Homo sapiens: one gene and its partner. The protein of the gene in region 1 purifies or fractionates together with the protein of each later gene. This does not show direct contact. Each region holds a gene or a part of one and is shown on either strand. Other genes may lie near its edges.

Region 1 (3,754 bases):
TTAATCTCCACTTAACAAATGAGAAAACAATCTCTGAGAGATTAGGGAGGTTGCAGTAAGTGTCAGGGCTTGGATTTACATCTCATTTGGCCGGATTCAAAAACCTTGTGTATTTTGCACTGTGTCACGCGGCCTGCCTCACAACTCCTTTCTACAGATTATAAAGCTAAAGGATTGCTAGAAATGACACCCTGGTGTGCCTCTCCCCACCCCAAGAAAATTGTACTCAGTTGAATCACAGGGTGTACCCCAGGGAGAGGAAGATAACGCATTTCCAAAACTTTAGCACAGCTCAGTCCACTCGACAGCCCCAAGAGAGGGGGCGTGTCTTTGGGATATTAGCACTGCTTTCTCCTTCAGGCCCTGCCCACCTAGTCACTGGTGAGTCCAAAGCCTTCCCCCTCGCTCTGTCGAATCTCACGTACACAGCCCTTCCCAGATCGGGATGTGTGTTCTGAATCAAGTAATTCGCTATGGCATGCAAATCATTATATCATATAGATGTGTTTTTCAAAATCTGATTAATGGTCAGTGCTTGTATATCTTATTTCCCATTTATGGGAGGTAAACTTTATTCACCTGTGTGATTTTGAGAGGCAGAGAAGCATTTTCTCCTCACTTTTCATTCTTTTTGCTTTCTAATTTGCTATTAAGCTGTTGCATATCACAAACTAAGAGCATGATTGCTAATTCCATTAGAAGAGCAGATAGTAGTGGGAATCCTTGACCTCTTAAAAAGTGCCAGGCTTTCTGGGCACGGTGGCTCATGCCTGTTCCGAGCACTTTGGGAGGCCAAGGCGGGTGGATCACCTGAGGTCAGGAGTTCGAGGCCAGCCTGGCCAACATGGTGAAACCCTGTCTCTACTAAAAATACAAAAATTAGCTGGACATGTTGGCACGCGCCTGTAATCCCAGCCACTTGGGAGGCTGAGGCAGGAGAATCGCTTGAACCAGGGGTTGGGGGAGTGGGGAGGAGGTTGCAGTGAGCCAAGATCTCACCATTGTACTCCAGCTGGGCAACAAGAGCGAAACTTCGTCTCAAAAAAAAGTTCCAGGCTTTGGAGGGCTTGGGAAATTGTCCACGGAGTGTCCTCAAACTGCGAGCCCTCGTATGGTAGTACAGGCTCATCCTAACTACCCTACTTTTTTCTGGAAGCTGTCATTTTGGTCATTGTGGTAATACCATATTTAATCTGTTTCAACTCCAGCGAGATTTATAGTCTCTGATGTTGCTTTTGATTCTTCTCATGTGTTGCCTGCTTATTTGCAAACTGGTCTTCTTAATCCATGCTTAAACTCTGCATATCAATTAGTCTTTCTTTAACTATAATAATGAAACTGTCACAAACTCATGCATATTTAAACCTATTTTTTAAACTCATTTGCTTATCAGATCTATTTTAAGAGCATGGTCATATTCAGTTTTGCCTTCTGTCCCAAATCCTCACTCTCCTGTAACAGTCTCCATTTAAATGTTTACAAAGGATTTGTCCTTTTATATATTTTGCACATTATTTTGGTACTCCAGAGATAAAACCTAAAAGCAACAATACACTCTGCAAATTTGGTTTCACTTCCAAACAATATGATTGCCTCCCCCACCTCACACACACCAAAAAAGCTTTATCCCAGTCAACTTTCTTAAATATCTAGGCAAATATTATTGAACTATTAATACTTTCACTTGAAATGTATTACAAGGTATTAAATGTATTGTGTGTTACCTTATATAACACTGTAGTCTCCTTTAATTAACAGGTAGAGAGTTAACAGTAAAGTTAAATGTTGAACATCTGCAAGAAGAAGAGTTGAATTTACAGTTTTCTTTGTCATAGTGGCTTAAGAAAGATTTGAGAGAACAACGGAAGTATAATACTTTCCTTCCTCTCTTTTGTCTTTTCAGGCACTTCCACAACTTACAGAATCTTAGTTTGGCTTATTGCAGACGGTTCACAGACAAAGGCTTACAGTACCTGAACTTGGGGAATGGATGCCACAAGCTCATCTATCTGGACCTCTCTGGCTGCACCCAGGTTTGTCTTTCAGTCTTCTCTTTGCTGCGGTGTGTGAGGAAGTTCTCCAGAGAATGGGCTGCATTCAGCCCTCACGTTATACTAATGCTGTGCACGGACCGCAGCACACTTTTCAGAGGTTTTAAATTACATGGCCCCAGCTGCTGAAATTTTCCCCAGGATCGCTATTATAGGCTCTTGGCTTCCTTCCACTGGAGTGTCACACAGACAAACAGGCAGAGCTCATTGGATGAGGAAACGGACCACTTTTGTGGAGACAGTCTGAGCACAAGTCTAAAGCAGAGTCCAAGTCCTGAAAACTCTGGAGTTGCTACCAAGACACAAACAAAGAGAATGTTTTGAGGGAGAATTTTGCATGGGATTCCTGAAAAGTCAATTAACTCCCACATGGGTTTTTTTTTGGGGGGGGGGGGGTAAAATGCTATAAGTGATAAATAGGAAAAGAAAATACAACAAAAACTCATAATTTAAAAAATTGCATTACACCGTTGGGCTGAATAACATGAAGATTTGAGATCTGCGTGGGAAAATATTTTAAGTTTGAGGGAACAGGACTTGGAAAGTTGGGCAGAAAATTGGATCAAGTTGCAGAGGATAGGGCATGGCGCTTTGGATGTAGCTACTGCCTCATTGATAGTTTCTTCTGCTTTAATTTCAAAAGATTTAAGCCATAATTCTTTTAACTTATTTTCTTCTGCCTCTCTGTGTATTTTATTAATTTGGTGTCATAGTATGTTCATTATTCTATGAGAATAATAGCATAGGTGAGAACTGGCTGAAATATTGATAGTTATCATTTCTTGAGTCATTACCATATGCCAAGCATTGTGTTGAGTGCTATACACAGATCAGATTTACTTCTGATACAGTGCTGTGGTGGTATGTATTTACTATGCTTATTTACAAATGAAGAGACCAAGGCTCAGGGTGGTTGAATAAGTTGCCCAAGTTTGCACAGCTGATGAAAGCACATGGTACTAGTACAGTTTTAAGCATCTGTTGCTAGATACTGGGGCAGGCAGAGTTCCCTGGGATAGTGGGAAATACAGGGGCAGCATGGGTTTCTCCCCCAGGGTTCTTGAATGGATAGAATTCTTACCTAGTCACCTCCACTGACATCTTGTGGTATCCTGATGCCCTGGGTGGTCTGGAGGGAGTTGGGGCAAGGAGGGGAGGATTCTAAGTTAGGGCTGTAAACATCTAACATTCATATTTGTTTAAAACTGATCTGCTGATGTGTAGCTTTTTAAACATCAACATCTACCATAACTTTATGACTGAGATGGCATTGACGTTCTCCTCAGCATGACTGAATTTTAGACCAGCTTCTTACTGACTCTAGGCCCTGACTTCTTGTTTTCTTGTTTCTTAGAGCATTTGTTTTAGAAAACTTGGAATTATAAGTTCTTTCTCTGCCTACTTTGAGATGTCTTTTTAACAAAAGCTTCTTGACAGTTTTACAACTCAGGAAAGTCTTCCTCAAGGACCTGGGATCTATCCCTTTGATATATAATCATCAAAGAAGATATCTCTCAGTTCCTGTGGGTGGGTAGAAGCCTAACTTTGATGGGCACCAATTAGCAAATGCCAATGGCCCAATCACAGAGAAAAATATTTGCAAACTCAGGAACAACTTAATGTGCTTGACATATCCCACTGATAAGCCTGCCCCTTAACTATAAATCCTTCAGTACTTTTCTAACTCGCCGTTGTGCTTAAAC
Region 2 (2,571 bases), about 29 Mb from region 1:
ACATTCATTCAGGGCCCAGCTGGACCAGGTCACAGCCAAGAATGGTGGAAGGGCAAAATACGGCTAGACTGCAGAGGGCCATCTCTGCTGGGCTGGAGATATCTGGAACCGACAAAGCAGCTCATCTTGTCATCCTCTAGCCCAAACATCACAACTCTAACTCAATCTCCCAGTTTTCTGAGAGTTGCTATGAGGACGAGATGAAGTAATAAAACACAGGAGCTAAGAACAGCACATGCCAAATAGTAAGAACACAATAAATATTAACTACAATTGGCATTTCCCATGGAGAAACAAGTTCCATTTTGTAGTTGGCTGTTAACAGGTCACAGCACAGGAGAAGGTAACAAGGGCCTAAGACACATCTATATATCCATATTATAACAAGAAACCTGGGTCGGGCATGGTGGCTCACACCTATAATCCCAGCTACTCTGGAGGCTGAGGTGGGAGGATCACTTGAAGCCCAGGAGTTCAAGACCAGCCTGGGCAACATAGTGAGACTCCATTTCTACAGAAAATTAAAAGAAAGCCAGGCATGGTGGCAAAGGCTTACAGTCCTACTACTACGGAGTCTGAGGCAAGAGGATCACTTGACCCCAGGAGTTCAAGACTGCAGTGAGCTAGGATTCAGCCACTGCATTCTAGCCTGGGCAACAGAGCAAGACCCTATCTCTTTAAAAAAAAAAAAAAAAAAAAAAAGAAAAGAAAAAAATTTAGCATGTAATGCAGACAGCATAAATGCTGAAAATAGAAGGACTTAAAGTGACATTCATTCCAACAGTTACTAGACTGGCTATGTGATCTCAGACAAGCGATTTAACCTTTCTCTGTTTTTTTTTGAGATGAAGTCTAGCTCTGTCGCCAGGCTGGAGTGCCCTGGTGCGATCTTGGCTCACTGCAACCTCTGCCTCCTGGGTTTAAGTGATTCTCCTGCCTCAGCCTCCCGAGTAGCTGGGATTACAGGCTTGCGCCACCATGCCTGGCTAATTTTTGTATTTTTAGTAGAGATGGGGTTTCACCATGTTGGTCAGGCTGGTCTCTAACTCTTGACCTCAGGTGATCCACCCACTTCGGCCTCCCAAAGTGCTGGGATTACAGGTGTGAGCCACCGCGCCAGGTCTTTTTTTTTTGAGATGGAGTCTCACTCTGTTGCCCAGGCAAGAATACACTGGTGTGATCTCAGCTCACTGTAACCTCTGCTTCTTGGGTTCAAGTGATTCTTCTGCCTCAGCCTCCGGAGTAGCTGGGATTACAGGCACATGCCACCACGCCCAACTAAATTTTTTATGTTTTTAGTAGAGACGGTTTTGCCATGTTGGTCAGGCTGGTCTTGAACTCCTGGCCTCAAGTGACCCGCTCACCTCGACCTCCCAAAGTGCTGGGATTACAGGTGTGAGCCACCATGCCCAGCCCAATTTAACCTTTCTAAGCTTTGAATGTCCATTTTCCTCATCTGTAAAAGAAGACAATAGCTGCCACCTCACAGGATTTTTGAGAGAATTATAGCAGGCGTCAAATACTCAAGTTCCTTCCACACAGCCTGGCACGCAACTCTAATGCTTGTTTTCTCCCTTCCCTCTGTGAAAGGGGAAACTATAATCATTCCTAAGCTATCGAGAAAGGGCTTGGTGCTGCCTGGCTCTGAGGTGCTCTCTCGAGCCTGTTACTCTAAAGACGAGACACAACAAGAGCAGAAAGCAAGGCCCTTCTAGGAAACTCATCCTCGGCCAACCACGACTCACCCTCCAGGATCTCCTGGCCCAGCGTTGGGGGCTGGGAGTCATCCGTGCGGAAGTCGGAGGTGTGTGCTGGGCTCAGGGACTCACTCTGCTGGGGGCTGGGGCTTGAGTTGGTGCTGCTGTCCACCTTAAGCTGATAGACGTCAGACACGGAACTCTGGTTGCTGTTTTCGTCTGAAAACCAAACAGAACAAAGGCAGCAGCTGAGCGTGGTCATTTTCCTCAAGAGGAACTCTGGACAGAGCCAAGGGCCTGGCATCACTTTAGGCAGCCAAGGATACAACTGAGTATAATAATCATTGTGCCCGGCCTACACGACATAGATTCTAAGCACCAGAGGCAGCCAGAATCTTTATGTTTATGCAACATTACACTTTAGGAAGGTCAGGATATGCTTATTAAACTCTTCTTTATTATCCACTGATTGCAGCTTGTGGAAGGGAGGGATGTAGCTGTGTCTCTGGTCAGTACTTCTCAATCCTTCTCACATCATAAGATGTGTAGAAAATGACATTTGTCAGGCATCCTTGGGCATCTGAAGGAGGCTGGTGGTGTCTGAAGGTGGTGAGCTCAGGCTTCGGCTGCCGGACTGACGGATTAGCACCTGGGAGTTCTGCCTGAAGGCTTAAAGTCACCATCAAGGTGCAAAACTTAAGAGTTACCAGGCCGAGGCCAGGCACGGTGGCTCACGCCTGTAATCCCAGCACTTTGGGAGGCCGAGGTGGGCAGATCACAAGGTCAGGACATCGAGACCATCCTGGCTAACACGGTGAAACCCCGTCTCTACTAAAATTACAAAAAATTAGCCGGCTGTGGTGGTGGGCACCTG

Evidence for each region. Proteins that work in one complex are often made in the same cells at the same time.
Region 2: the proteins of LRRC17 (region 1) and BCL7B purify together in Homo sapiens (affinity purification with mass spectrometry; one large-scale study listed by BioGRID and IntAct). This does not show direct contact.

What each region holds. Positions count from the first base shown.
Region 1 is NC_000007.14:102,911,365-102,915,118, reverse strand, and holds the start of LRRC17 (leucine-rich repeat-containing protein 17 isoform 1 precursor), read right to left. Parts: upstream 2,120-3,754; 5' UTR 2,034-2,119; coding exon of another isoform or gene 1,904-2,033; exon of another isoform or gene 1,725-1,903; intron 1-1,724. Other genes in the region: FBXL13 (F-box and leucine-rich repeat protein 13), read left to right, coding at 1,904-2,033. UniProt on the Homo sapiens protein: Involved in bone homeostasis. Acts as a negative regulator of RANKL-induced osteoclast precursor differentiation from bone marrow precursors.
Region 2 is NC_000007.14:73,538,137-73,540,707, forward strand, and holds part of BCL7B (B-cell CLL/lymphoma 7 protein family member B), read right to left. Parts: intron 1,917-2,571; coding exon 1,746-1,916; intron 1-1,745. UniProt on the Homo sapiens protein: Positive regulator of apoptosis. Plays a role in the Wnt signaling pathway, negatively regulating the expression of Wnt signaling components CTNNB1 and HMGA1.